Homo sapiens: one gene and its partners. The protein of the gene in region 3 interacts with the protein of the main gene of each other region in a biochemical or structural test. Each region holds a gene or a part of one and is shown on either strand. Other genes may lie near its edges. The genes, in order: MOB3A, MOB1A, LATS2 and MOB4.

Region 1 (7,503 bases), on a different chromosome or scaffold from region 3:
CAGGAGAATGGCGTGAATCTGGGAGGCGGAGCTTGCAGTGAGCCGAGATCCCACCACTGCACTCCAGCCTGGTTAGGCCGGGTGCAGTAGCTCATGCCTGTAATCCCAGCACTTTTGGAGGCCAAGGTAGGCGGATCACCTGAAGTCAGGAGTTTGAGACCAGCCTGGCCAACATGGTGAAATCTTGTCTCTACTAAAACTACAATAATTTCCTGGGCGTGGTGGCGCACACCTGTAATCCCAGCTACTTGGGAGGCTGAAGCAGGAGAATCACTTGAACCCAGGAGGTGGAGGATGCAGTGAGCCGAGATTGTGCCACTGGACTCCAGTCTGGGCGACAGTGGGAGACTCCGTTCAAAAAAAATAAAAATCTCAAGATGGTTGTAAATGTGACTATAAAAATCAAACCCTTTATGATACACAAAGGGGCCCTTAGGAAATGAGTCAGAAGCCGGGGTGCAGGACGTGGGGTCCCAGGAGTCCAGGAAGCCCTGGATACAGTCAGCTGAATGTTTCGGAAGAACGGAAGAAGCAGAGTGCATTGAGGAAGAGAGAGGGCTGGGTGCGGTGGCTCACCCCTGTGATTCCAGCACTTTGGGAGGCCGAGGATGGAGGATCACTGGAGGCCAGGAGTTCAGCGAGACCCCTGTCTCTAGTATGACCAAAAAAAAAAAAATCTGTAGAAAAATGGAAGAGATTGGGGAGGGAGGAAAGAGGCTGCCTGGGTCCAGGTTGTGCCTCTGTGTGAAGAGACACCAGCGGCTGCCAGTGGGGAGTGCGGAGTAAAGGCCTGCGGGAGGAGATGTCCGCTCTCAGGGGCTCGGAAGCCCCTCAGCCTCTTGCCTCCCCAACGGGAGACATGTAGGAGGCCGAGCAAGCTGGGTGCCCTTGAGAGACAGGCCCAGGCAGGGCTGTGGCCACAGCAGCCCTGGGGGCTCCCCAGCGAGGTGGAGGCAGAAGTTCCAGGAGCCTGGGAGCCACCCAGGGCAAGGAGTGACCCTGGAAGCCATCCAGCCTCCTGGAAAGTGGAAGTGGTTTAAAAACACAGTGGGCTTTTCCGGTTGCTAGTAACACATAGAATTACAGAGTTCACGTTTTAGTCCCAGACGGGAGACTGAGGCTCGAGACTGAGGAAGGCATCTGCCGTCCGGGGTTGGAGCTCCTGAGGACCAACACCTGCTCAGCGGCTCGGCCCCTGGTCTCCCTGAGATGCTCAGGCCGGAGAGAAGCGGGATGATGGTTCCAGAGCGTCCTCCTCCAAGTCTCCGAGGCCCCAGCGGCGGTTCGGGCACCGGGAGACCCGCGGGGCTCTCAGTGGCACATCCGGGCGGTCATTTCTTTCTGTAAAGAGCAAGCAAGACATCAGCTCCCACCAGCCACTCCTAAAAGGGGTGATGCGAACAGCAGACACACGGAGACGCACAGGCAGAGAAACGGCAGCTGGGGGCTTCCCTGAACACCCAAACAACAAAAACCACACAGGCAATGGCACACCTGAGACCAGGGGCAGCAGGCTACCCCATGAGGCCAGAGAGTCAGCATTTTCAGATCTGTGGGCCAGACGGTCCCTGTCATGATGGCTCAACTCTGTCTTGTACCTCAAAAGCCACCTCAGACGATGGTAACCTCACAAGTGTACCTCGCTGCCAATAAAACTGTATTTACAGCCAGGCTTGGTGGCTCACGCCTGTAATCCCAGCACTTTGGGAGGCAGAGGTAGGCAGATCACCTGAGGTCAGGAGTTCAAGACCAGCCTGGATAACACGGTGAAATCCTGTCTCTACTAAAAATATAGAAATTAGCCTGGCATGGTGGCAGGCACCTGTAATCCCAGCTACTCAGGAGGCTGAGGGAGGAGAATCGCTTGAACCTGGGAGACAGAGGTTACCGTGAGCCAAGATCGCGCCACTGCACTCCAGCCTGGGTGACAGAGCGAGACTCTGTCTCAAAAAAGAAAAAAACAACTTTGGGAGGCTGAGGTGGGCGGATCATGAGGTCAGGAGATCGAGACCATCCTGGCTAACATGGTGAAACCCCGTCTCTACTAAAAATACAAAAAAATAAGCCAGGTATGGTGGCACATGCCTGTAGTCCCAGCTACTCAGGAGGCTGAGGGAGGGGAATCACTTGAACCTGTGAGGTGGAGGTTGCAGTGGCTGAGATCAAACAAACAAACAAACAAAAAAACCCCAGAAACTTTATTTACAAAAACAGGAAGCCAGGCCAGAGGGCTGCAGTTTGCTGATCCCTGTCTTATACAGACTGGGACACTAGAAGGAAAGTTCTGGAATACAGAAAAAAAGAAAAAGAAAAAAGAAAAGAAAAAGAAAGAAAAAAGAGGAAGACCCCACTACCATCTTTAGAGCCACTGAGTATGCAACTATTAATTTTAAATTTAGCAAAATGTTTACCAGTAGCAAAGCCTGAAAGGGGATGCACAAAAATGAGGAAGTTATGTGAAGATGTTTTTAGTCTTTTTTTTTTTTTGAGACGGAGTTTCACTCTGTCATTCAGGCTGGAGAGCTGTGGCGCAATCTTGGCTCACTGCAACCTCCACCTCCTGGGTTCAAACGATTCTCCTGCCTCAGCCTCCTGAGTAGCTGGGATCACAAGTGCCCACCACCATGCCTGGCTAATTTTTTTTTTTCCCCTGAGACAGAGTCTTGCTCTGTCACCCAGGCTGGAGTGCAATGGCGCGATCTCAGCTCACTGCAACCTCTGCCTCCTGGGTTCAAGTGATTCTTCTGCCTCAGCCTCCCGAGTAGCTGGAATTACAGGCGCGTGCCACCATGCCCAGCTAATTTTTTGTATTTTTAGTAGCGATGGGGTTTCACCATGTTGGCCAGGCTGGTCTTGAACTCCTGACCTCATGAGCTGCCCGTCTTGGCATTCCAAAGTGCTGGGATTACAGGCGTGAGCCACCACGCCGGGCCTTAATCTTTTCTTTTCTTTTTTTTTTTTTTTGAGACAGGTTACTGGCTGTCACCCAGGCTGGACTACAGTGGCGTGATCTCGGCTTACTGCAGCCTCAACCTCCCAGGCACAAGCAATTCTCCTGTCTCAGCCCCCTGAGTAGCTAGGACCACAGGCACGCACCACTGTGCCTGGCTCATTTTTTTCATTTTTTGTAGAGATGAGGTCTCACTATGTTGTCCAGGCTGTTCTCAAACTTCTGAGCTCGAGTGATTCTCCCTCTTTGGCCTCCCAAAGGGCTGGGATTACTGGTGGGAGCCACCTCGTCCGTCCATTTTTAACCATTTTTTAAAGTTGTAAGAGAGTGGTGGCTCCCACCTGTCATCTGAATACTTTGGGAGGCCAAGGTGGGAGGATTGCTTGCATCCATGAGTTCAGACCAGCCTGGGCATCATAGTGAGACCCCATCTCTACACACAATAAAAAATCAGCCGGGCGTGCTGGCTGTGGTCCCAGCTACTCGGAGGCTGGTGGGGTCCCGCTCTCACATCAGGATCCCCACATCCATACAGCGCCCAGCAGCCTGGGGAACAATGCAGCCTCTGGGCAGGTTCCAGTGCCAGGCCCTGAATCACGGGCACCCACTCCACTGCTGGTCCCCATCACCGAGACACAATTGTGGGCCCCAATTTCAAGAAGCAACATTGGCTTCAGGGATGTGGACCCCACACCGAGGAATCTGGTCCCTGGGTTCGTCTCCCGATAAAACCTGGTAACGTGGAAAGCAGACAGGCTAGGGCAGATGCAGAGGTACCCGGCTGGCTACAGAAGTCGGGTGGAATCTAGGCAGGTGCGGTGGCTCCTGTCTGTCATTCCAGCACTTTGGGAGGCCGAGACAGGGAGATCACCTGAGTTCAGGAGTTTGAGACCAGCCTGGCCAACATGGCAAAACCTGGTCTCTACTAAAAATACAAAAATTAGCGGGGTGTGGTGGCACGTGCCTGTAATCCCAGCTACTCAGGAGACTGAGGCAGGAGAACTGCTTGAACCCGGAAGGTGGGGGTTGCAGTAAGCCAAGATGGCGCCACTGCACTCCAGCCTGGGTGAGGGAGGCAGACTCCATCTCCAAAAAAAAAAAAAAAAAAAAAAAGGCCAGGCACAGTGGCTCCCGCCTGTAATCCCAGCACTTTGAGAGGCTGAGATGGGCAAACCACATGGTCAGGAGATCCATCGAGACAATCCTGGCTAACACGGTGAAACCCCCTCTCTCCTAAAAACACAAAAAATTAGCTGGACGTGGTGGCGCGTGCCTGTAATCCCAGCTACTTGGGAGGCTGAGGCAGGAGAATCACTTGAACTCGGGAGGCGGAGGTTGCAGTGAGCCGAGATCGCACCACTGCACTCCAGCCTGGGTGACAGAGTGAGACTCCGTCTCAAAACAAACAAAAACAAACAAACAAAAAAAGTCGGGGTGGAGTCTGCTTGTGCCGGCTCGCATCCCTTTCATAAGGGACACTGAGCGGCGCTCTGGGACACCTGAGCTCAGGACGGTGAAGGCGGAGTGAGCTGGACGCGGGGCGGCGCGGAGGAAACTGCACCTGTCGCCGGCATTTGTTCCGTGGGAGAACGCAGGATCCCTCCCAGCTACCTCACCACTTGTCCCATCAGCAGGGTCCCCGGGGCCCAACTCCAGCCGGGGCCGCCAGCTGCTGGGCCGACCGCAAGCAGTCAGGGTCCTGGCCCCGGAAGGGTTCCTCTGCCACGGGCCACCAGCCCCACCGTAACCGCACGCCCTCAGCCCCAAGCCCGCGCACCAGTGGCTCCAGCTCCTTGGTGTCGATGAGGCCGAACTCCTTGACGAAATAGTAGAAGTGCTTGTAGCAGGTGTTCACGTGGGCCTCGGAGCCCATCTGCGCGATGCGGTCAAAGTGGTGGATGTAGACGTGCACGAACACGCGGAACAGCCGCGACAGGATCTTCCGCACCGTCTGCAGGAAGTTCTTGGGAAACGGAGTGCCTGCAGGGAGAGGGGTGGGACGGGTCCACGGACTCAGCCAAGTCCATGTCCAGAACCCTTTGCTCCTGGATGTGACAAGGGGCTTCCAGACAGAAATTGCTGGCAGATCGGGCGCGGTGGCTGACGCCTGTAATCCCAGCACTTTGGGAGGCCGAGGCAGGCAGATCACTTGAGGTCTGGAGTTCGAGACCAGCCTGGCCAACATGGAGAAACCCCATCTTTACTAAAAAATACAAATATTAGCCGGGTGTGGTGGCTCATGCCTGTAATCCCAGCTACTCAGGAGGCTGAGGCAGAAGAATCGCTTGAACCTGGGAGGTAGAGGTTGAAGTGAGCCGAGATCGTGCCACTGCACTCCAGCCTGGGTGACAGAGTGAGACACTGTCTCAAAAAAAAAAAGAAAAAGAAAAGAAAAGAAAGGTACGCTGTACTCTGGAGGGACGTGCCCTAATGATCATCCTCAAACCCACGTTTATGGGGTGTCCCTGAGAGCCATGCAGTGCATTACACATCGAGCTGGGCAGGGGGTCCCGCCAACGGGGTGATGATCCTGGTGGGCCCAGGGGCTCCATGGCAGTGATTCTGAAACCACTGAGAACACTGGGCCCAGCACTGGCAGGGGTGCTTGTCTCCTCTGCGAAGGACTCCAGGCCTGATGCTGATCCTGTCATTCTCTGCTTTGGGGTGAGGAGACAGGAGTCACCAGGAGTGATTCAGGATGAAGGGGGGCTACTAAGAGCAGCCCAACTTAGGAGAATACTCAGAAATGGAATCCTTTTTTTTTTTTTGAGACAGGGTCTTGCTCTGTCACCCAGGCTGGAGTACAGTGGCACGATCATAGTTTACTGCAGCCTCAACCTCCTAGCCTCAAGCGATCCTCCCACCTTAGCCTCCCGAGTAGCTGCGACCAAAGGCGTGTGCCACCATGCCTGGCTAATTTTTAAAATTTTTTGTAGAGATGGGATCTTGCTATGTTGCCCAGGCTGAGCTCAAACTCCTGGGCTCAAGCGATCCCTGGGCTCGGCCTCCCAAAGCGCTGGCATTACGGGTGTGAGCCACTGTGCTCGGCCTCCCTGACTTTTCTGGAAGGCTCTGTATCCCCGAGCCCCTGCCAGCTCTGACTCACCAACGTTGGTGGGGAAGAGGTCCTCGTTGTTGATCTGCGCCTCGATCCAGTCCATCAGCAGGTCCATGTACCTGGGCGCGGAGAGTGCCGTGGGCTTCCGGAACTTATGCTCATCCTGCCAGCGGTACTCATACTTGGGGCCCCCCGACATGACGGGGCAGGACTGCTCCGTGCAGCCGTCGCTGATGGTGCCGTAGATGAGGTTGACGCGGTTAAAGAAGTCCACCACGTGAACAGCCACCCAGTCGTTCAGGTCCTCGCCCGGGGGCAACTGCACGGCCAGCCGCAGGTCCAGCCCGGCGTTCAGCGACGCCTGCGCCTTCTTGTGCAGCTCGAAGCGCTGGGTGCCTGGCTCAAACTTGCGCTTGGGGCGGAATGTCTTGTCCTTGTTGAAGACTTGCTTCAGGAAGGGGTTGGACATCTTGGTGACGCCTGCTCTCCTGGACTTCTGTAGAGGGGTCCTGGGCCAGCTGGCTGGGGGTGCTGACCAACCCGAGAGGCCACGAAACACTCACCAAGCCCCACAGCTCTCCCGCGGACCTGAAATACACAGGGGAATCATGACCTGCTGGAGGCGACAGAATTTCCCGGAAACTCGTGCTGAGGGCACAAGCGGCAGGATTTTGTTTTGTTTTTTGAGACAGGGTCTTACTCTGTTGCCCCGGCTGGAGTACAGTGGTGCCATCACAGCTCACTGCAACCTCTGCCTCCCAGGCCCAAGCGATCCTCTCAACTTAGCCTCCTGAATAGCTGGGACTATAGGCACACACCACCACACCTGGGTAAGTTTCTTTATTTTTAGTAGAAACGAGGTCTCACTATGTTGCCCAGGATGGTCTCCAACTCCTGGGCTCACATGATCCTCTCACCTCTGCCTCCCAAAGTGCTGGGCTTACAGGTGTGAGCCACTAGTGGCAGGGTTCAAAACATCCCCTGGACTTTTGACTTTAAGGAGTTTCACCCAAAGGGGGCCACCTCCTCAGTGGACAGAAGAGAACTGCGCGTGGCGAGGCCTGACCGATTCACAGCAGAAGGTGCGCAGAGCCGGGCCCCAAGAGCCCGCAGGGGCCGCATCTTCCCCGGTGCCGATGCCTGGCCCGGACCTAGACTTGCTGCTACCCAGCACTGTGGGGCTTGAGTGTGGGGCAGGCTGAGATGCCAGTCACAGGGGACTGCATGGCCGGACTACGGCCTCCACAAAGGAAGCCACACCGCAATGCCCGCAGCCTGTGCATGGCAGCCTAGGTGGAAGAAGGTCTCAAGGGACGTCATCTTGGATTCCTTGGGTGGCCCCACAGTCAGTGACAAACATCCTCAGGAGTGAGGCAGATACGGGGGAGACGGCTGTGCGAGGATGCAGGCAGAGATGGGGGTGCTGCTTCCACAAGCGAAGGGTCGCCCAGGATGCTGGCCACCGCCAGGAGCAGAGAGAAGCCTGGCAGATGCC
Region 2 (7,503 bases), on a different chromosome or scaffold from region 3:
AGGTATTCAATATTCACTCAAAACAAAAAATATGCCCAGGTGGAAGTTGGTTTGGTCTAGAAGAGCTATTCTCAAAACGTGGTCCAGGAATCCCCTATCTGAGGGAGGATCTGTAAGGTCAAACCATTTTAATTGTTCTTTTCACTCTTACTCTCTCAAGAGGGCACAATGGTGTTTTCCAGAGGCTCCATGATGTGTAATATCACAACAGACTGAATACAGAAACGGATATAAGAATCCAGGTGTCTATTAAGCCAGACATTAAATAAGATTTGCAAAAATATAAAACAATGCCATACTTCTCACTAAAATTTGTTATGGAAAATAGTCATTTTTCGTAAAAACATATTTATGGTAACATGTAATGGGTTTATTATTGTTATTTTAAAATGAATTTGGGCCGGGTGCAGTGGCTCACGCCTGTAATCCCAGCACTTTGGGAGGATGAGGCAGGCGGATCACTTGAGGCCAGGAGTTCTAGAACAACCTGGCCAACATGCCAAAACCCCGTCTCTACTGAAAATACAAAAATTAGCCGGGCATGGTAGCACATGCCTGTAATCCCAGCTACTCTGGAGACTGAGGTGGGAGAACTGCTTGAAGCCAGGAGGCAGCTGCAGTGAGCCAAGATCGTGACACTGCACTCCAGCCTGGGCGACAGGGCGATACTGTCTCGAGAGAAAATAAAAAATAAAAATAACTATTTACATCTTCTCAGTTTTAATTTCCAACAGAGTATCACGAGATATACCCAATATAATTAAAAGCTCTTTGGGGTTCTCAATAATTTTTTTTGTATTTTTTGTATTTTACCTTGTTTTTCCCCCGACTGGGTCTCACTCTGTTGCCCAGGCTGGAGTGCAGTGGTGCGATCTTGGCTCACTGCAACCCCCGTCTCCCAGGTTCAAGCAATTCTCCTGCCTCAGCCTCCTCAGTAGCTGGGATTACAGGTGTGTGCCACCACACCCAGCAAATTTTTGTATTTTTAGTAGAGCTGGTGTTTCACCATGTTGCCTAGGCTGGTCTCGAACTCCTGACCTCAAGTGATCTGCCAACCTCAGCCTCCCAAAGTGCTGGGATTACAGACATGAGCCACCATGCCCAGCTTGTATTTTACTTTTTTAATTAACACAGAATGGTACATATTTATGGGAATCAATAATTTTTTAAGAGGGTAAGTGGATCTGAGACCAAAAAATTTGAGAACTGCTGATCTACAGCAGTTAAGTCTCAAAGAAAAATCTAAGGCTGAAGGTCAATAAATGACTTCAGAATAACAGATGATAATCTGAATAAAGTTTTGTTTGTTTGTTTGTTTTTGTGTGTGTGTGTTTTTTTAAGATGGAGTCTTGCTCTGTCGCCCAGGCTATAGTGCAGTGGCACAACCTCAGCTCACTGCAACCTCCACCTCCCGGGAAGTGATTCTCCTGCCTCAGCCTCCAAGTAGCTGGGACTACAGGTGCGTGCCACCACACCTAGCTAAATTTTTGTATTTTTAGTAGAGATGGGGTTTTACCATGTTGGCCAGGATGGTCTCAATCTCCTGACCTCGTGATCCGCCTGCCTCGGCCTCCCAAAGTGCTGGGATTACAGGCGTGAGCCACCATGCCCGGCCCTGAATAAAGTTTTTTAAAAAAGGTTTTTTTTTGGCTGGGTTTTTTCCAGCACTTTGGGAGGCCATGGTGGGTGGATTACCTGAAGTCAGGAGTTCGAGACCAGCCTGGCTAACATGGCAAAACCTCGTCTCTACTAAAAATAGAAAAATTAGCCAGGTGTGGTGGCGGGCACCTGTAGTCCCAGCTACTCAGGAGGCTGAGGCAGAAGAATCACCTGAACACAGGAGGAGGAGGTTGCAATGAGCTGAGATCGCGCCAGCCTGTGCGACAGAGCAAGATTCCATCTCAAAAAAAAAAAAAAAAATTAGCAGGGCATGGTGGTGTGAGCCTGTAGTCCCAGCTACTCGGACGGGTGAGGTGGGAGGATCACTTGAGTCCAGAAGTTGAGGCTGCAGTGAGCTATGATCATGTCACTGCACTCCAGCCTGGGCAACAAAGCAAGACCCCATCTCTGAAGAAAAAAAAAGAGATTCAAGAAGCATACACACAGGCCTCTTTGGATCCTGATTTAAACAAAGCATAGATTTTTAAAGCAAAAAAATTTTAAAAAGAAAACATTTGGCCAGGTGCGGTGGCTCACGCCTGTAATCCCTGCACTTTGGGAGGCTGAGGCGGGCAGATCACTTGAGGTCAGGAGTTCGAGACCAGCCTGGCCAACATGGCAAAACCTCCTCTCTACTAAAAATACAAAAATTAGCCGGGCGTGGTGGCGGACACCTGTAATCCCTCAGCTACTGGGGAGGCTGAGGCAGGAGAATTGCTTAAACCCGGGAGGTGGAGGTGGAGGTTGCAGTGAGCCAAGATTTCGCCACTGCACTCCAGCTTGGGTGACAGAGCAAGACTCCATCTCAAAAAATAAAATAAAAAAAAAATAAAAAATAAAAGAAACATTTATGGGACAGTCATGAAAAATGTGAACACTGACCAGATATTTGATAAGTTAAAGGAGGATGGCATTGTCATTATCTTTACAAGTTCTTGTCTTTTAGACATACCTTACTGAAATATTTATAGATAAAACATCATGTCTGGGATTTGCTTAAAATAATCAGGGTGACATATAGAAGAAGAAAAATTGGTCACAAACTGATATTTGTTGGAGCTGGGTAATGGAATGAATACCTGGAATTCACTGTACTTAGTCTACTTTTATATGTTTGAAATTTTCCATTAAGAAGTTTTAGGCTGGGCGTGGTGGCTCATGCCTGTAATCCTAGCACTTTGGGAGGCCAAAGCAGGCAGATTGCCTGAGCTGAGGAGTTCAAGACCAGCCTGGGCAACATGGTGAAACCTTGTCTCTACTAAAATGTAAAAAATTAGCTGGGTGTGGTGGCGTGTGCCTGTAATCCCAGCTACTCAGGAGACTGAGACAGGAGAATGGCTTGAACCCGGGAGGTGGAGGTTGCAGTGAAGCAAGATTGAGCCATTGCACTCCAGTCTGGGCAACAGAGCAAGACTCCATCTCAAAAATAAATAAATAAATAAATAAATAAAAAGTTTTAAACTTTTTATTTAAACTTTTTATTCCTGGAACATCTGAAATCTCTAATTTAAACTTTATTACCCAGAAATGATATCATCTCAGAAATGAGAGACTCTCACATTCAAATCTCTAGCCTTAGCATATTGTCCCATGTCATGCACTTGTTCTCTTGAACTTAAAGTGACTTTCAGCTCAGATCCCTCCATTTTCTCCCAATCTCTCAATTCCCTCTGCCACTCTAAGTCACAACAATCAACTGTCCATATGAACTGCAATTGACTTTTCTGGATATGCAGGCTGATGAGTACTGCTGGGAGTGGAAGTAAAACTGTAGATGGATTTGCTACAAAGTCACAGACCACAACAGGCATAATCTTTTCATTTATCAATCTTTTATCTGACCTTACTCAGCTTTTCATACTATTCTTCTTAGAAATTGCCCAAAAGCACTCATCATTTCTCCTCAGCTCCCTCTACTCAACCTCACAAACTACCACCTAGTACTCTGAAAAGAGCAACATAGCTTTGGATGTATTTGTACTTAATGTTTCTTTACAGATAATTTGTTATATTAAAACAGTTCTAACTGTAAAAGAAAATTCATTAACAAAGAGATTTTAGCAAAACCTTTCTAGAAAACAGCAAAGTTACATTTTAAAACTTACTGTTCACAGCAATCCATTCATTGAGATCCTCTCCCTCAGGCAACATAACAGCTTGTCTCAGATTCCCACTTCCTAGAGTTGCTTCTGCATGTTTTAAGAGTTCATACTGATGAGATCCTTCAGGGATATTCTTCTTTGGTTTGAATGTTTTAGAAGAGCGGCTGCTGCTGTAAGATTAAAAGTGCAAGTATATGAATTTTTAAGACTGGAAGTAGAACAGGTAGAACAACATAATTTTAGGTATATAAAGTAGCCTGTAAAAATAAAATAAAAAATACTCTCTGGGCCAGGCATGGTGGCTCATGCCTGTAATCCCAGCACTTTGGGATCACCTGAGGTCAGGAGTTCAAGACCAGCCTGACCAACATGGTGAAACCACACGTCTACTAAAAATACAAAAATTAGCCAAGCATGATGGCGCACACCTGTAGTCCCAGCTACTTGGGAGGCTGAGGCAGAAGAATGGCTTGAACCTGGGAGGCAGAGGTTGCAGTAAGCTGAAATCGCATCACTGCACTCCAGCCCAGGTGACAGAGCAAGACTCAGTCTCAAAAAAAACAAAAACACTCTCTGAAAAATGCCAAGATAGGAAGATGATGATCACAATACAAGAATGCTTTTTTTCCCCTGCCTGTAAAAGCAAGATTAGCAGCACAATTCCACAAATAAGGCAATTTTACTATGCCCTCTGAAGAAGTCTGGTACAGAGAAACATCCTGGATTTTAGTTCTTGATCTGACACTAACTGTGTCTTCTTGAGAAACTGAACCTTCTTTTGGCCTCAATTTCGGTTTTTTTTTTTTTTTTTTTTTTGAGATGTAGTCTTACTCTGTCACCCAGGCTGGAATGTAGTGGCACAATCTCGGCTCACTGCAATCTCCACCTCCTGGGTTCAAGCGATTCTCCTGCCTCAGCCTCTCGAGTAGCTGGGATTATAGGCATGCACCACCACACCCAGCTAATTTTTTTTTTTTTTAGTAGAGATGGGATTTTGCCATGTTTGCCAGGCTGGTGTCGAACTCCTGACCTCAAGTGATACACCCGCCTCAGCCTCCCAAAGTGCTATAGAAAATGATGGGGCCATGCCGGGCGCGGTGGCTCACGCCTGTAATCCCAGCACTTTGGGAGGCCGAGACGGGTGGATCACGAGGTCAGGAGATCGAGACCATCCTGGCTAACACGGTGAAACCCCGTCTCTACTAAAAATACAAAAATTAGCCGGGCGTGGTGGAGGGCGCCTGTAGTCCCAGCTACACGGGAGGCTGAGGCAGGAGAATGGGGTGAACCCGGGAGGCGGAGCTTGCAGTGAGTCGAGATCGCACCACTGCACTCCAGCCTGGGCGACAGAGCGAAACTCCGTCTCAAAAAAAAAAAAAAAAAAAAAGAAAATGATGGGGCCATGGCTAGGTGCGGTGGCTCACACCTGTAATCCCAGCACTTTGGGAGGCCGAGGCAGTGGATCACGAGGTCAAGAGATTGAGACTATCCTGCCCAACATGGTGAAACCCCGTCTCCACTAAAAAACAAGTACAAAAATTAGCTGGGCGTGGTGGCACACGCCTGTAGTCCCAGCTACTCGGGAAGCTGAGGCAGGAGAATGGCTTGAACCCAGGAGGCGGAGGTTGCAGTGAGCCAAGCTTGCACCACTGCACTCCAGCTTGGCAACAGAGTGAGACTCCGTCTCAAAAAAAAAAAAAAAAGAAAAGAAAAGAAAAAAGAAAATGGTGGAGCCAAGTGCAGTCGCTCACACCTCTAATCCCAGCCATTTGAGAGACCAAGGCAGGAGGATTTCTTGAGCCCAGGAGTTTGAGACCAGCCAGGACAACATAGTAAGGCGGAATGGGGGGTGGGGAAGATAAAAAGAAAATGGCGCAGGGAGGTTTAGTTCAAAAATCCAGTATTCTATATCAAAATATTTGAGACGCCTTGAAAGCAAACCACAGTAAAAGAAACACTAACATCTTTAAGTTTATAATAGGGAAAATAAATGAGACAGGCACAACTCGTTATTGAGGAAAAAATGTTTTTATTCCTATCTCACACCATCCATAAAGTCTTCCTGCACAAAACTCAGAAACCTCAAAGAAAAAGTGGACAGATTTCAAATAGTATCAATTAAAACTTTCATAACAGAGCAAAAAGACAAGTAACCAAATAAAAGTACTTGTAACATATATTACAAAGGATGAACTGGATAATAGAGGGCTTCTGTAACTCGTTAAGAATATAAGGAATCCTTTAGAAAAATAGGCTAAGGAGATGAATAGGCAATTCAGAAGTATGACAATCAATGAGCATGAGAAAAACTGTTCAATTAAAGTAAGATTTATTTTTTCCCTAATCTGAATGTCAAAAGTTTAAATGATTACATTAAATGTGGACTAGGGTAGGGGCCCCCAACCCCAAGGACACAGACTGGAGCCCACAGAAGGAGATGAGCAGTGAGCAAGCAGCAAAGCTTCATCTGTATTTACAGCTGCTCCCCATTGCTGGCATTACCACCTGAGCTCCACCTCTTGTCATATCAGCAGAGGCATTAGGTTCTCACAGGAGCGTGAACACTACTGTGAACTGTGCATGCAAGGGATCTAAATTGCATGTGCCTTATGAGAATCTAAAGCCTGATGATCTGTCACTCTCTCCCATTACCCCCAGATGGGATTGTCTAGTTGCTCAGAGCTCCCACTGATTATACATTATGATGAGTGGTAGAATTATTTCATTATATATTCCAATGTCATAATAGAAATAAAGTGCACAATCAATGTAATGCATTTGAATCATCCAGAAACCATCTCCCCAACCAGATCTGTGGAAAAATTGTCTTCCACAAAACTGGTCCCTGGTGCCAAAAAGGTTAGGGACCACTGGACTAGGGTACAGAGAAACTAGTATTTTAATACACTACTGGTGAAAGTATAAAGTGTAACATTTTGGGAGGGCAATATGGTAGTATCTATTAATACTGAAAAGCTCCTCAAGCCATCCATTCTACTTCTAAATATCTCCTCTAGATATGGATAAGAATTTTTTTCCAAGATTGTTTTTAATAGGGAGAAACCTAGAAGCAATCCTCAAGTTTATCAGTAGAGGATTGAATTAAAGTATGGTACATCCATATCATGGAATATTGTATAGAAGTTAAGAAAACCAGACAGAGTACACGTATTCACAGGGAAAGATCTAATACATGGTTAAACATAATACACAACCAAACGTACAGCAGGAGCCCATTTTGTAAATACATAGAAAATATCAAAAACTAAACTCATCAAAACTGGTGATTACTTCTAGGAAGAGGAATGGAATAGAACTATGGACTTTTACTTTACCTGAGTAATTTGGAATTTAAATAAGACTGATTAAGAAGTAAAAAAGAGCCGGGTGCAGTGGCTCACACCTGTAATCCCAGCACTCTGGGAGGGCAAGGCGGGTGGATCACTTGAGGTCAGGAGTTTGAGACCACCCTGACCAACATAGTGAAACCCCGCCTCTACTACACACACACACACACACACACACACACACACACACACACAAACTAGCCGGGCGTGGTGGCAAGTGCCTGTAATCCCAGCTACTTGGGAGGCTGAGGCAGGAGAATTGCTTGAACCCGGGATGCAGAGGTTGCAGTGAGCTGAGATCGCACCACTGCACTCCAGCCTAGGCAACAGAGTGAGACCCTGTCTCAAAAAAAAAAAAAAAAAAAAAAAGGAGGTAAAAAAGAATGATGAAAACA
Region 3 (7,503 bases):
GCGGGGGCGGGGGCCGGGGCAGGCGCGGGCACCCAGGCGGGGTGCGAGGGCCCCACAGCCGTCTGCGGCTCCGGCCTCAGCACACGCACGCTCTTCACCGGGTGCAAGATGTGCGCGGCCGTGACAGCCGTCACGGTGTTGGGGGCGGGCAGGGAGGGCTCGGCCTTGCCAGGCGGACCGGGCCGCGGCTGGTGGCTGTTGAAGGAGTTGGTCCTGCTGGGCACTGGGCAGTCAGGCCGGAAGGCCACGTGCGCGCGCGGCGGCGCCTCCAGGCCCGGCTTCTGCAGGGAGTCCCGGCGGGCCAGGGTGGCAGCCGGCCACTGCTGGACGGAGGTGCTGCCCAATTCATACAGGTCCACGTTGAGGCTGTTCCGCGAGGGAGTGAGCAGGCTCTGCGGGGGGCTGTCGCTGGCGAACACCTGGCTGCGGGAGCCCAGCACATGCAGCTGGTGGGCCGCGGGACCGGCCTGCTTGTGGTGTGGGTGCGGCACGTAGAGCCCGGCGGCAGGGGGTGGGAAAGCGAGGCCGGCGCCTGGCGGTCCTCCCTGGCCCTTCGTGGGCAGGCTGGCGTAACCCCCGGTCTCCGGCGGCGTCTTGCTCTGGAAGGAGGGGCTGCGCTGCACTCCGTAGCCCAGGGGTTCCCCAGGCACCAGCAGGTGCGGCCGCCCGTAGTGCGCGCCCTGCAGCGGGAAGTGTGCCCCTGCTGCCTCTACGCTGGCACCGTAGCCCTTGGGTGGGTGCTGGTGCTGGTGGCCGGGCCCGTGGGGGCCGACTCCGGGGAAAAGGTAGTCCACGTACGGCCGCGGCATCTCCTCCAGCGCCGTGGGGCCGTCAGCGCCGAAGCTTGGGCCCTCGTAGGGGGTACCGCTCAGCTGGTGGTAGGACGCAAACGAATCGCCGGTTCCTTCGAAGCTGGGCCTCCGCGTCACTGGGGTTGGCATGAGCCCCTTTCCTGCAGTGGAAAAAACAGGAAGACAGCATCAGAGTGGGTGTGATCAGTGGGTTCTGGCACTTCCAGGCTGGTCCCCACTCTAGCGCTGCCCTCGGGGCTGAGGGTCTTGAACCCTGGGCCCTGACGTGCTGCATTCTGCCCAGCACAGGGTCAGTGGACTCCCCTCTGCCCTGCCAGCAGGACCAGTTGCCCTAATGTGTTAGCAGAGTGGAGACAAGCTGAAGGGCACATGGGAGGGCCAAGGGCAGAAGAGAAGACTGCGTCCACATCCCGAGGTGCGTCCCTGCCCCCTGGGGACCACACTGGGGTCACTCTCCTGTCAGGCTAGGGAGCCGTCTGCATAGCCAGCTTTGCTTTTTCAAAACCCTATCATGCCCAAATTGTGGGGGGCTGAGTTTACCGACACACGGTTCCCAAAGCGCTGCTCCCTCACAGAAAGGGCAGAACTGTATCCACTGTGCAGCAGCTGCTCCACTTCTCTTTCACCTCTTTTCCAAATTAAAAGACTTTCTAGTTTTTTTTGTCTATATTAAAACAAAGCAATATATACACAATAATAAAAACCACACAAAACCCCTCTACAAATATCCAGATTGATTTCATCTGCTGCTACCTTAATCCTGACCTCCATTTTGTACATCTCATCTGAAACAGACACCGGAAGGAAGGACAAAGGTTCCTTTCATTTCTTCAGGCCAACTGCTCCACTTGGCTCGGCTTAGCAGAGGGTGCCGAAGGGTGGAAAGGCTGGGCCTTGCCCACAGGAAGACCACCCCGATACCTGGCAGAGTGAAGGCCCTGACAGCCTGGCACTGAACAAAGGTCACAGGCACACCAAGGCTTTGTTTTCCCTGGGCCCAGAAGACGTCAGTGAAGAGACACACCAAAGGCAAGTGCAGAGGGAAATCAGCACGGAACATGGGCCTGGCCTTCCCTTTGAGCTGTGCTCTAAGGCCTCAAAACTGGAAGAATTCTGACATGGATGGCCAGCTGGGGGCTATTTAAGGAAGTTCCTTCTCTTAAGAAGAAAACAAAAATGTGTGTCCTTTTAACAATGGAGATATAACTTACAAAGGTGAGATTTTTCTCACCCACATGAAGTAGGTTTTATCCAAGGTCTTCCACAAAATAGGGAAAACTCTTGCTAATTACTAGGATTTTTTTTTTTTTTTTTTTTTTTTTTAAATACAGACGAGGTCTCCCTCTGTTGCCCAGGCTGGTCTCCAACTCCTGCCTCCATCCTCTGGCCTCAGCCTCCCAAAGAGTTGGGATTACACAAAACAAAACAAAGCAAAACAAAACCAGGCCACACAGTGTTGGGTTACAGGCTTGAGCCACTGCGCCTGGCCATGAATCCTTTATCACACCCCAGGGGCCTCAGGTACCAATCACAGGGCCCATGTGCTCCATCTTGGGAAAGTAACATTCATCCATAGCCAGTAAAAAGCAGGGGTTTGGTGCGGTGCCTCAGGCCCATCACAGGGGATGCTGAGGGGGGCCCAGCGCTCTGCCCACACTGCCTGCCATTGAACCCCCACTCTCAGAAGCTACGATGTGAGAGAGGTGTGTTTTAGAATTGAGGAAAGAAGCCACCCTTGTCAAAGATCCCTCCACAGGCCCAAGAGAAAGTGAAAAGACCATTTTTACGCCCGCTTTGCTGACTTTTTTGATCTTTCATAAAACAAGCACACACCTTCCCCTAGGTAGGAAGTACTAAGGTAATTTCAGACAAGGCTGGATGGGGCAAGCGCCAGGCGTGTCCCACGGTCTACCACTTGGGGCTGCTCCCGCCAGGGCCTGACTCTGTCAGGGCAGGGCAGGCTCAGCTTGCCTGTTAACTGAATGAGGCAATGTGCCAGGAGACTGGCTCTGGCCAGGCCAGGCCAGGTTGGACCCCTCTGCACGTGGTTTTGTTGTCCTTAAGCCACAAACCATCTTTGCCCACTATGCTGCAGGCCTGGGCTCACCTGGGGAGGTCTGCTTAATGACCCGCACAATCTGCTCATTCCTCGGGTCCAGGTAGCCCATCTTGCTGATGTACTCCAGGGCGGCCTCGATGCTCCTGCTGCCAGTCTGCTTGAGAGCTCGGCCAGCCATCTCCTGGGAGGGAAGTAAAGGAGAGGTAAGTGCATGTCATCCTAAAACAAAGCCACCAAAGACTCCCATCCCCACTCCGTGCTGGACTGTGCTGGGACACTTCGCCTCTGTACTGCTGAGAACCTGCGATATGCTGCAGGAGACCCTCAGAATGAGTGCAGGTGGCTGTGTGCCCTGCAGGTACCTGATGGCAAAAGCCTAGCACAAGCCACACCATAGACTATTTAGCCTTATGTCAAGGACATATGGGAATTTTGATGATGGGCCTGAAAGAGACTTAAATTCTGCTTCTCCTCAGAAAACTTTTGTGGTTGGACTGGTGAGTTCAGGATGAACCTAAAACTAGAAACATTTAAGGGGAAGAACTGTGGGAGTCAGGGAACCTGGCTTTAACCTCAGCTCACCTCCAGGCTAACTCTGGGACTAGGAAACCTGTCCCCAGGGAGAGGGTGCAGCTGCCGAAGAGTCATATATTACACGCCTACTGTTTACAATGCCCCATGCTGGCTATAGCAGCGGAGGACTGGCCCTTAGAGATCTGACTCGTAGAAGAAAGAAAGGAGACAAAACAGGGGCCCATGGAGCCACACCGGTCCAGGACAGGTAGCTCAAACTGCTTGTGGGAAGAACACAGGGACTGGTGGCCACCACGGGAGAGGGCAGGTAAAATGGATGAGGGCCACAGGAGAAAGCCTCCTTCCACCCGAAAGATGAGGTGGTGGCATGGCTAGCTGTTCCAGACTTTGGGCAGGTGGAGAGCCCTGGGAGAGAAAAGGCATTCCTGGCAGATGGGACAGCCAGAGCAGAAGCCTGGGGAAAGATGGGCCCATGGCAGCAGCACGCAAGGGTAGGTGGAGATGGGGGGATGGACCCACAGATGGGGGCCAGGCTCTCCAGGGTTTTGCTCCTGTCTGCAGGCATTCGAGGAAGCTTTCAAACTGGGACATACGGCATCAGCAGGTCAGGCTGGGGGCGGCTGTGGGTGCAGAGCTGGAGGCACTCAGATGGGGGAGACAGAATAGGCAGGAGGGTACCGAAGAGATGCAGCCCAGTGGCGCGGGGCGGTGAGGCTCTGATGAAGGCGCCCCCTTCACCTTTCAGGACAGCTCCGCAGAGCTGTAGGCAAACAGGGAGGGTGAGCAGAGAGAAAAGAACACCGTTGAGGCTGGCTGTGGGACAAGGGCAAAAACAGGCAAAGGCCACAAAAAGGGCTTCAGCAGAAGAAGAAAGGCTGAGCACTCTGAAGGTCAACGAGGAGGGCAACCAGGCAGGAGGAAACTGAAAATGTAGAACGGGGAGCTCCGGAAAGGAGTCCACAGTTACCCAGACAGCAGAGAAGAAAGGGGTGGAGATGGCTGGGCGTGGTGGCTCACGCCTGTAATCCCAGCACTTTGGGAGGCCGAGGCAGGTGGATCAAGAGGTCAAGAGATCGAGACCATCCTGGCCAACATGGTGAAATCCCGTCTCTGCTAAAAATACAAAAATTAGCTGGGTATGGTGGTGTGTGCCTGTAGTTCCAGCTACTCAGGAGGCTGAGGCAGGTGAATTGCTTGAAACCTGGGAGGTGGAGGCTGCAGTGAGCCGAGATCACGCCACTGCACTCCAGCCTGGCGACAAAGTGTGACTCCATCTCCAAAAAAAAAAAAAAAAAAAAAAAAAATGGGGGGGTGGAGATACAGAAAGACCCCGGACAGTGGGGGAGGCCGTGCAGGGCTGCTCTGCAGCAGGAAGCCTGGCCATGGTCACAGAGCCACTCCGCAGAGAGAGATGCAGCACTGAGTGTCCCCCACCTCTGGATAGGGCATTGTGGTGCCCATGATCTGAATCGCACTCAGCTGTGTGTCTGTGGTTCCCTTAGGACAAGAAGAACCTGGCAGGGCCTGAATCCATGTTACTCATGGTTGCTTCTGCCCCCTTAACACAGTGCCTAGAACAAATTAAGCACTTATTGTCCATATATGATGGTCTAATACTGAATCAAGCTTTCCAGTCCTGGCCATATGCCAGCAGAATGGCAGCACAAAAAACACAGGCTGTAAACTGTGTTCTTAGCAATGCAGGCGTGGGCATGGCAAGATGGCAGGGACAGGCAAGGGGCTGCAGAGGAGCACGAGGTGGAAGGCCTGGGGAGGTGCCGCCACATGGGCAGGCCATGTTGCCTGCCCATGTGGGACATGGGACATGAAGTGACAGATTGGAAAATGGTAATAAGAACAGACCTGTTTGTTAAAGTGGCGCCTGGACTACCAGAAAGGGCAAGTGTTTACAACCTGGAAGAGTTGCAGAGAGAAGGCAGCGGTGGTTCAGAAGGGAAGTGCTTCCTGACCCCACCTGGGACAGGAGATAAGACTCCCACCACCGCCTACTTCGGGAGCTATGCGATGAGATCACGTCTACGAAGACTCAACAGCTTGGAGGAAGACACGATATAAGACCACATCTTTGTGGGATCACCCTGGAGCTTTTGGCGCCCATTAAAAAAATGTGCCAATTGGGGCTGACTCTAACCACAAGCCTTTCCATCAGCACTAACCGTTCAATTGCTTCATCTGAAACGTGACCAACGCTCTGTCTCCTGCAGGGTGAATCACCAGCCTGTGCTCATTAACCCAGTACCTGTTGACTGCCAAGGAAGGGACAGCTCCAGGACAGACTAGGTCAATGTGGATGTTCTCAAATTCCCTCCCTGTTTATGGAGCACCCACTACTCAAGATGTGTATGTTTATTGTGCATCAAATCTAGGAACTCAGAAAAATCAGCAAGGAGACCACAAGTGAAGACTCATGTTCAGAAGGGAGTTTCAAGTCCTAAAAGTGAACCGTACTCATGAGCCGGCTTGTTTATAAATAAACCCTTCAAATAACCCATGTCCTTTGAGGCTTGCCCTTGTTATCTGTCCATCAACCCTTCTTTAGCAAGTAAGTACTTCCTATCTGTACATTAAATCTCAGAAGATGCTACTGTACATATACATAGAGCTATGTTTTAAACACTGAAGGAAATGGGAATCCACTTCTAAATCCATCAGAAATACATGGCCTCTGGGCACAAAGTACATGCAGAGTCACAGAGTGAAGACAAGTGCACAGTCGGGGGAATGGCAAGAGGTCGGAGCCAGGATGCGGGAGGAGTGTGTCAGAGAGATGCAGCTGAAGCCTGGCCGAGGAGCTTGGCCACTCACCTTCCTTTCTTAAGCATGTATGGAGACCAAGCTGGATGTGGTGGCTCATGCCTATAATCCCAACACTTTGGGAGACTGAGGCAGGAAGACTGCTTGAGCCCGGGAGTTTGAGGCCAGACTGGGCAACACAGTGAGACCCCGTCTCTACACAAAAATAGCTGGGTGTTGATGGCGCATGCCTGTAATCCCAGCTACTGAAGAGGTTGAGGCAGGAGGATTGCTTGAGTCCAGGAAGTAGGGCAGGCTGGGCAACAAAGTAAGAATGTGTCTCAAAAAAAAAAAAATAGAATAAAATATTTTTTAAAAGAAGAATGTATAAAGATCATCATTTAAGGGTCCTTATCTAGAATCGTAGGTGGCTATTCCAAAAGATGGCAGGATGGCGCAGTGGTACAGGGCGCAGATAGGGAGGCCACACACCTAGGTTCACCCCTCCCCTCTGCTGCTTAGCAGCTGTGTAACTTTCAGCAAATCATTTCCTTACTTTGAGTGCCCGTTTCCTCATCTGGGAAATAAGGCTAATAGGTTGCTCTAGGGATGAAAGGAGATGTCATGCTTGGGCATCAGCATCACTTAAGGGTTAGCTGTTACAGTTCACAAAGGTATCTTATGTGTTTCTGGGAAAAAAAAACATAAAAACTGTAATTGTAGATTTTATGCATGTTTGATATTTAATGGCTCTAATGTTTTACTGTGTATTCTTCTTACAATAATTATACAAAGAAATGTAATGAGTTCTTTTCCCCAAGCCTCAATAGACACCTCCAGTCTCTTCCAGCTTACCTCAGGCTGCTGTGTAAACATTATCCACGTCTATGCATGCCAAGATGTGGAAAGGGTGAGCAGCCCTGCCCCAAAGCAAGAGTTCAGCTGCAAGCCAACTGAAGGCGAGGACAGTTCAGGTATGTGTTCTGGTGTCTAGCGTGTAGAAAGAGATCAGCAGATATCTGTTCAATGAATGATTGAGTGAGTGACTGAGTTAGACTGTGACATAGGATAGATGAAAGGAAGAAAGAGCTGCAAGCAGGGAGTAAGAAGATACTGTCTGTTCCACTGGGCAGGCTGCCCTGGTGTGTGGAAGATGGAGATAAGGTACACAGCAGAGATGCACCAAGGCACAGGCTAAAGGGAATTTCAAATCAACATTATCAACAGCAGCAACTTCCAAGTTTTACTCCATTATCTAGTTTGCACACGTGCCATTCTTCAGGACAGCCTCTTCTACAGAAGTTCACAAAATCTTAATGCTCTTTGAATGTGTGTATCATGCAC
Region 4 (7,503 bases), on a different chromosome or scaffold from region 3:
CTGCAGTGAGTTGAGGTCACGCCACTGCACTCCAGCCTGGTGACAGAGCGAGACTGTCTCAAAAAAATAAAAAAATAAAAAAAGTAAGAAAAAGAAACACATGATCATCTCAATAGGTGCAGAAAAAGCATTTGACAAAATTTAACACCATTTTATGATCTAAAAAGCACTGAATGACCTACGAATAAAGGAAACAACTTCAATATAATAAAGACCATATATGAAAAATCCATAGTGAACATCATACTCAACAGTGAAAAACTAAAAGCTCTCCTCTAAGATCAGGAAGAAGACAAAGATGCCCTTTTTCACCACTTTTATTCAAAGTAGTACTGGAAGGTCTAGCCAGAGCAATTAGGCAAGAAAAAGAAAGAAAACAGATCTAGATTGGAGAAGTAAAATTATATGACATGGGTCTCGTATGTAGAAAACCCTAATGATTTCACATCCAAAAAACCTGTGAGAATAAATGAACAAATTCAACAAACAGGACACTTCCCCCTATTTTTAAAGAGATAACCATCTGTACATTTTTCTTCAAAATTTAACCAATTTCTAGGCATAGAGCTAGATCTAGGTTTATATTCCTTTATCTTCCACAAGGCCTAACTCATTGCTAGCTATATCGTGAGAAGCCAATAAATATTTGCTGATTGAACAGCACTTTTTCTTTTTTTTTTTTTTTTTTGAGATAGGGTCTCTGTCACCAGCCTGGAGTGCAGTGGTGCAATCACAGCTCACCATAAACCCTTTCCTCCCACCTCAGCCTCCTAAGTAGCTAGGACTACAGGTGCACGCCACCTAGCCCAACCTTTTTATTTTTTACAGAGACAGGGTCTCACTATATTGTCCAGGCTGGTTTCAAACTCCCAACCTCAAAGTGATCCTCCCTCCTCGGCCTCCCAAAGTACTAAGATTACAGGTGTGAGCCCCCACACCCAGATGGGTGGTTTTTAATGCTCAAATAATTCAACTATATGTCTCTTTTATTTTCTAAGATCTTCAAATAACATAACAAATCCGAATAGCTGTCTACTTTTTTTTTTTTTTGAGATGGAGTCTTGCTCTGTCCCCCAAGCTGGAGTGCAGTGGCACGATCTCGGCTCACTGCAGGCTCACTGCCTCCCAGGTTCACATCATTCTCCTGCCTCAGCCCCCGAGTAGCTGGGACTACAGGCACCCACCACCACGCCCGGCTAATTTTTTTATATTTTTAGTAAGAGATGGGGTTTCACCATGTTAGCCAGGATGGTCTCGATCTCCTGACCTGGTGATCCGCTCGCCTTGGCCTCCCAATGTGCTGGGATTACAGGCGTGAGCCACCGCACCCGGCCAGCTATCTACTTTTATTATCTGGCTATCAAAATGAAGCCAAACAGCCTCGATTTATGGTATATTTTCCCTTTAAAAATGTTATCATCAGCCAGGGCAACATGGTGAAACCCCATCTCTACAAAAAATCAGCCAGATGTGGCAGTGTGCGCCTATAGTCCCAGCTACTTGGGAGGCTGAGGTAGAACAATCACCTGAGCCCAGGAAGTTGAGGCTACATTTTGCCATGCTTGAGCCACTGCACTCCAGCCTGGGCAACAGGGTGAGACCCCGTCTAAAAAAAAAAAAGACAGGTGCAGTGACTCATACTTGCAATCCCAGCACTTTGGGAGGCCATGGTGGGTGGACTGCTTGAGCCCAGGAGTTCAAGGTGGGCAGCATCGCAAAACCCTGTCTCTACTAAAAATTCAAAACAAAAAAAATTTAACCAATGCCTAATCCAATATACTAGTACGCTCCAATTTATATTATCTTTTTATTAGCCCCTTAATGAAATTGTATTTTTGTTTTTGTTTTTGTTTTTTTTTTTTTTTTTGAGACAGAGTCTTGCTTTTGGCCAGGCTGGAGTGCAGTGGCATGATCTTGGCTCACTGCAACCTCCGCCTCTTGGGTTTAAACGATTCTCCTGCCTTAGCCCTCCCGAGTAGCTGGGACTACAGGCACATGCCACCATGTCTGGCTAATTTTTTATGTTTTTAGTAGAGACAGGGTTTCACCATGTTGGCCAGGATGGTCTTGATATCCTGACCTAGTGATCCACCTGCCTCGGCTTCCCAAAATGCTGGGATTACAGCTGTGAGCCACCACACCTGGGCTATTTTTATTTTTTTAAGATACAAGATCTCACTCTGTCACCCAGGTTGAAGTACAGTGGCACAATCATAGCTCATTAGACCCTTGAAGTAGGATCAAGTGATCTCCCCACCTCAGACTCCCTAGCTACTGGGACTACAGGTGTGTGCCACCATGCCTGGCTAATTTATCTTTTCGTAGAAACAGGGTCTTGTTATGTCGCTCAGGCTGGTCTTGAACTCCTGGCCTCAAGTGATTGGCCTCCCAAAGTGCTGGCAGCCACAGTGCCCAGCTTAATATGCCATCTTAAAACAAAATGAGGGTTGACTAAACTTTTAAATAGGCATTCCATTAATTCAGTGGAATCTTCTCTATGCGAAAAGATATAAGAATACTTAACTATGTCAGAGGTAAAATGCTTAGGTTATTGGAGTTGTAAAAGGAACTATTTTGTTTTGTTTTGTGAAAGAGCACGCTTTATTGGGAAGCAGACTGCTGCACAGTGACCAACAGACAAAGGCCACCCAATGGGCACTTACACATCGTACTCCAAAAGACACAGGGTGAAAAGAAACTATTTTTATTACCTGTTGAACAGCTAGTGTACTGTCCATTTCATCAAAGGATTCATCAGGCCAATTATAGAAATCCTATAAAAATAAATTCACGGTTAAAGCACATACAAAATACTATTATGATTAACTTCAATTCTTAATAAAGACCCAAAGCTCACACTAGAGGGGAAGAAAAAACTTTTGCAATGTAATTATCAGTGAAATAAGGAAATAAATTTTATTCAACTTTTCTTTTTTACAGACAGGGTCTCACTCTGCAGCCCATGCTTGTGTGCAGTGGCACAATCATAGCTCACTACAGCCTCAAACTCCTGGGTGTAAGCAATCATCCCACCTCAGCCTCTCACCTTAGCCACCCTATTCTTAGGATTATAGTCCTGACCCACTGCGCCTGGCTGTTTAATGTTTTTTAAATGAATATTAAGATTTTATTTAATTGAACTATAAATTACGTTTTTTCCAATCACAGATTCCTCAAATACAGCTCCCATAAACCTTTAATGTATTACTTAATTGGGGAGACAAGTCTATCACTTTTTTATGATGGTTAAATATCTCTCAAAAAGTTACAATGAAAAAAAAACTCCAGACACCAAAAAGTAAATCAGATTTTTACCAAAAGAGAATATCTAGCATTAGTAGCTAATTTACTGCTCCATAATTATTATTATTAATATTATTATTATTATTTTGAGACCACTCTGTCGCCAGGCTGGAGTGCAGTGGTGCGATCTCAGCTCACTGCAACCTCCACCTCCTGGGTTCAAGTGATTCTCCTGCCTCAGCCTCCCGAGTAGCTGGGACTACAGGCACGCACCACCACACCCAGCTAATTTTTGTATTTTTTGTAGAGACAGGGTTTCACCATGTTGGCCAGGATGGTCTCAATCTCTTGATCTCGTGATCCGCCTACTTCAGACTCCCAAAGTGCTGGGATTACAGGCGTGAGCCACCATGATCGACCCATAAGTATTATTTTAAAAAGAAATTATAAATTATTATTCTCATTCCAAATAGAGTTTTGAATTTCTAAATCAAAATATGGGCACCATTAAAAAGTAATCATCAGACTGGGCATGGTGGCTTACACCAGTAACCCTACCACTTTGGGAGGCCGAGGCGGAAGGATCACTTGAGGTCAGGAGTTCGAGACCAGCCTGGCCAACATGATGAAACCCCGTCTCTACTAAAAATACAAAAAATAGCCGGGCATGGTGGCGTGCGCCTGTAATCCCAGCTACTCAGGAGGCTGAGGCAGGAGAATTGCTTGAACCCAGGAGGCGGAAGCTGTGGTGACTCAAGATCACGCCACTGCACTCCAGCCTGGGTGACAGAGCAAGACTCCATCTCAAAAAAAAAAAAAAAAAAAAAAAAAGGTAATCACCCATGGGTACAAAAAAAATAGAAAGAATGAATAAGACCTAGTATTTGCTAGCACAATAGGGTGACTATAGTAAAAACCAATTTAATTGTACATTTAAAAAAAACTAAAAGAATCTAATTTTTTGCAACATAAAGGACAAATGTGTTGCAGGAAGTCAGGGACCCCAAACTGAGGGACCGGCTGAAACCACGGCAGAAGAATGTGGATTGTGAAGATTTCATGGACATTTATTAGTTCTCCAAATTAATACTTTTATAATTTCCTATGCCTGTCTTTACTGCAGTCTCTAAACACAAATTGTGAAGATTTCATGGACACTTATCACTTCCCCAATCAATACCTTGTGATTTCCTAGGCCTGTCTTTAATCTCTTAATCCTGTCAGCTGAGGAGGAGGTATGTCACCTCAGGACCCTGTGATAATTGTGTTAACTGCACAAACTGTAGAGCATGTGTGTTTGAACAATATGAAATCTGGGCACCTTGGAAAAAGAACAGGATAACAGCAATTGTTCAGGGAATAAGAGAGATAACCTTAAACTCTGACCACTGGTGAGCCGGGCGGAACAGAGCCATATTTCTCTTCTTTCAAAAGCAAATGGGAGAAATATCGCTGAATTCTTTTTCTCAGCAAGGAACATCCCTGGGAAAGAGAATACACGCCTGGGGGTGGGTCTATAGACGGCCCCCTTGGGTATGGCCGTCTTCTATGGTCGAAACTGTAGGGGTGAAATAAACCCCAGTCTCCCATAGTGCTCCCAGGCTTATTAGGAAGAGGAAATTCCCACCTAATAAATTTTGGTCAGACCGGTTGCTCTCAAAACCCTGTCTCCTGATAAGATGTTATCAATGACAATGGTGCCCGAAACTTCATTAGCAATTTTAATTTTGCTCTGGTCCTGTGGTCCTGTGATCTCGCCCTGCCTCCATTTCCCTTGTGATATTCTATTACCTTGTGAAGTACGTGATCTTTGTGACCCACACCCTATTTGTACACTCCCTCCCCTTTTGAAAGTCCCTAATAAAAACTTGCCGGTTTTGCAGCTTGTGGGGCATCACGGTACCCACCGACATGTGATGTCTCCCCCGGACGCCCAACTTTAAAATTTCTCTCTTTTGTACTCTGTCCCTTCATTTCTCAAACTGGCTGATGCTTAGGGAAAATAGAAAAGAACCTACGTGACTATCGGGGCAGGTTCCCCGATACAAATGTTTATGGTGATGGATACCCCATTTACCCCCCTGATGTGATTATTATACACTGCATGCTTGTATCAAAATATCTCATGTAACCTACAAATATATACACCTACTATATACCCACAAAAATTTTAAAAAGAGAAGGAAACATCAAATAAACCAGCTTTCTGTTAAAGGGAATATTTTTATTTCTTCTTCTTTTTTTTTTTTTTTTTTTTTTTTAAGAGACGAGGTCTCACTTTGTTGGCCAGGTTGGTCTCAAACTCCTGGTCACAAACAATCCTCCAGCCTCAGCCTCCCAAAGTGCTGGCATTACAAGCATGAGCCACCATGCCCAGCTTAAGGGGGATATTTTTATAGAGCATCTTGCCCTGGTTCTGGAATTCTCTGTAGATAATACAGTTAACAGATATTCCCCTAAGTGATTAAGAACCTTTCCATTTGACTGATTTTTCAGAAAAGTTTACCTATGTAACCTCAGTGGGTAGCACAATGCCTGACACATCTTTGAAGCTCAAATGTCTCTGAGGTAAAACTTGGTGGGGAGGAGGTAAGAGTAAACCAATAATCTATAAACCTGTATATAAACCTGTAAAAACAATCAACAAAGATTAAGTCTTCAAAACCTTGAGCAAAAAAAGCAAATTAGAAGTAAACACAGTGTATATAAAATGAATAAAGTTTAGGCCGGGCGCGGTGGCTCACGCTCAGCACTTTGGGAGGCCGAGGCAGGCGGATCATGAGGTCAGCAGATCGAGACCATCCTGGCTAACACGGTGAAACCCCATCTCTATGAAAAAATACAAAAAATTAGCCAGGCGTGGTGGTGGGCGCAAACCCAGGAAGCGGAGTTTGCAGTGAGCCGAGAGTGCAGCACTGCACTCCAGCCTGGGAGACAGAGCGAGATTCTGTCTCAAAAAAAAAAAAAAAAGTTTAAGTGCAAGGCATACTTATGGATATAATGCATATATAGTAAAAGTATACAGAAAAGAAAAGGAATGATAGGGTAGAAGACAGAGAATGTCTTCCATAAGGATTCAACTATAGTAGCAATGTCCCCGTTTGGACAGTAGGTAATGAGTACACCTTTTTAAGTGTCTTAAACATTTCATCTTTTTTGAAATAGCTGGCCTATCTGGATGAAAATGAACTAATTTTATTAAAGGAAAATATCAAGAAATAAAACAATCTTCTAGAAATGGTTCCAGGATTCCTTTTCTTAGACATTATCTATTAAAGAGCAATTCTAAAATTTTTCCTATATGATCTAAAGTTTCTACCAATACTCTGTCTATTCTTTCCTTTTTAAAAAAACTAAGGAAGTTTACAGAATGTTGTTTTTAAAATATTAGAAAACACATGTACAGTTGGCCCTCCATATCTGCAGGTTTAATCTGCAGATTCAATCAACCAGGAATTGAAAATATTCATTTCAGGGGAGAAAAAAAATACAGAAAATGTTATATTGTTGCTGACATGTACTATGTACCTAGTTAGGTCTAAGATAGTTGCGTATGTACTAAACATGTACCGGCTTTCTTTTTGGTCATTATTCCCTAAATACAGTATAACAACTATTTACAGAACACGCATTGCATTAGGTATTATTAAGTAATCTAGAGTTGATTTAAACTATATAACAGAATGTGCATAGGTTATATGCAAACACTATGCCATTTTACTTAAGAAACTTAAGCATCCTCAGATTTTGGTATGGGGTGGGGGTACGGAGTTATCCTGGAGCCAATCCCCAGAGGACACCAATGATGACTATATATAGAAAAGATGTTGAGAATGAAATGTTTCGCCTTCTCATAACTGTGACATATTTTAGATGCCTATGAGAGACACCAAAAATTCAGCTTAATAAAGATTCTCATCTAATTCAACCAACAAACATTTATTGAAAACCAACTATGAAGCCCAGCGTGGTGGCTTGCGCCTGTAATCCCAGCACTTTGGGAGGCTGAGGCGGGAAGATCACTTGAGGTCAGGAGTTCGAGACCAACCTGGCTAACACGCTGAAACCCCATCTCTACTAAAAATACAAAAAAAATTGGCTGGGCGCAGTGGCTCATGCCTGTAATCCCAGCACTTTCAGAGGCCGAGACGGGCGGATCACGAGATCAGGAGATCCAGACCATCCTGGCTAACACAGTGAAACCCCATCTCTACTAAAAATACAAAAAAAAATTAGTCAGACGTGGTGGTTAGCGCCTGT

The links.
Region 1: the proteins of LATS2 (region 3) and MOB3A form a complex in vitro, tested with the Homo sapiens proteins (one study listed by BioGRID).
Region 2: the proteins of LATS2 (region 3) and MOB1A form a complex in vitro, tested with the Homo sapiens proteins (one study listed by BioGRID).
Region 4: the proteins of LATS2 (region 3) and MOB4 form a complex in vitro, tested with the Homo sapiens proteins (one study listed by BioGRID).

Annotation. Positions count from the first base shown.
Region 1 is NC_000019.10:2,072,084-2,079,586, forward strand, and holds part of MOB3A (MOB kinase activator 3A), read right to left. Parts: intron 6,597-7,503; 5' UTR 6,478-6,596; coding exon 6,057-6,477; intron 4,931-6,056; coding exon 4,728-4,930; intron 1,342-4,727; coding exon 1,312-1,341; 3' UTR 1-1,311. UniProt on the Homo sapiens protein: May regulate the activity of kinases.
Region 2 is NC_000002.12:74,168,822-74,176,324, forward strand, and holds part of MOB1A (MOB kinase activator 1A), read right to left. Parts: intron 3,932-7,503; coding exon 3,765-3,931; intron 1-3,764. UniProt on the Homo sapiens protein: Activator of LATS1/2 in the Hippo signaling pathway which plays a pivotal role in organ size control and tumor suppression by restricting proliferation and promoting apoptosis.
Region 3 is NC_000013.11:20,988,353-20,995,855, forward strand, and holds part of LATS2 (serine/threonine-protein kinase LATS2), read right to left. Parts: intron 6,849-7,503; exon of another isoform or gene 6,737-6,848; coding exon of another isoform or gene 6,716-6,736; intron 3,053-6,715; coding exon 2,920-3,052; intron 953-2,919; coding exon 1-952. UniProt on the Homo sapiens protein: Negative regulator of YAP1 in the Hippo signaling pathway that plays a pivotal role in organ size control and tumor suppression by restricting proliferation and promoting apoptosis.
Region 4 is NC_000002.12:197,518,895-197,526,397, reverse strand, and holds part of MOB4 (MOB-like protein phocein), read right to left. Parts: intron 2,775-7,503; coding exon 2,712-2,774; intron 1-2,711. Other genes in the region: HSPE1-MOB4 protein, read right to left, coding at 2,712-2,774.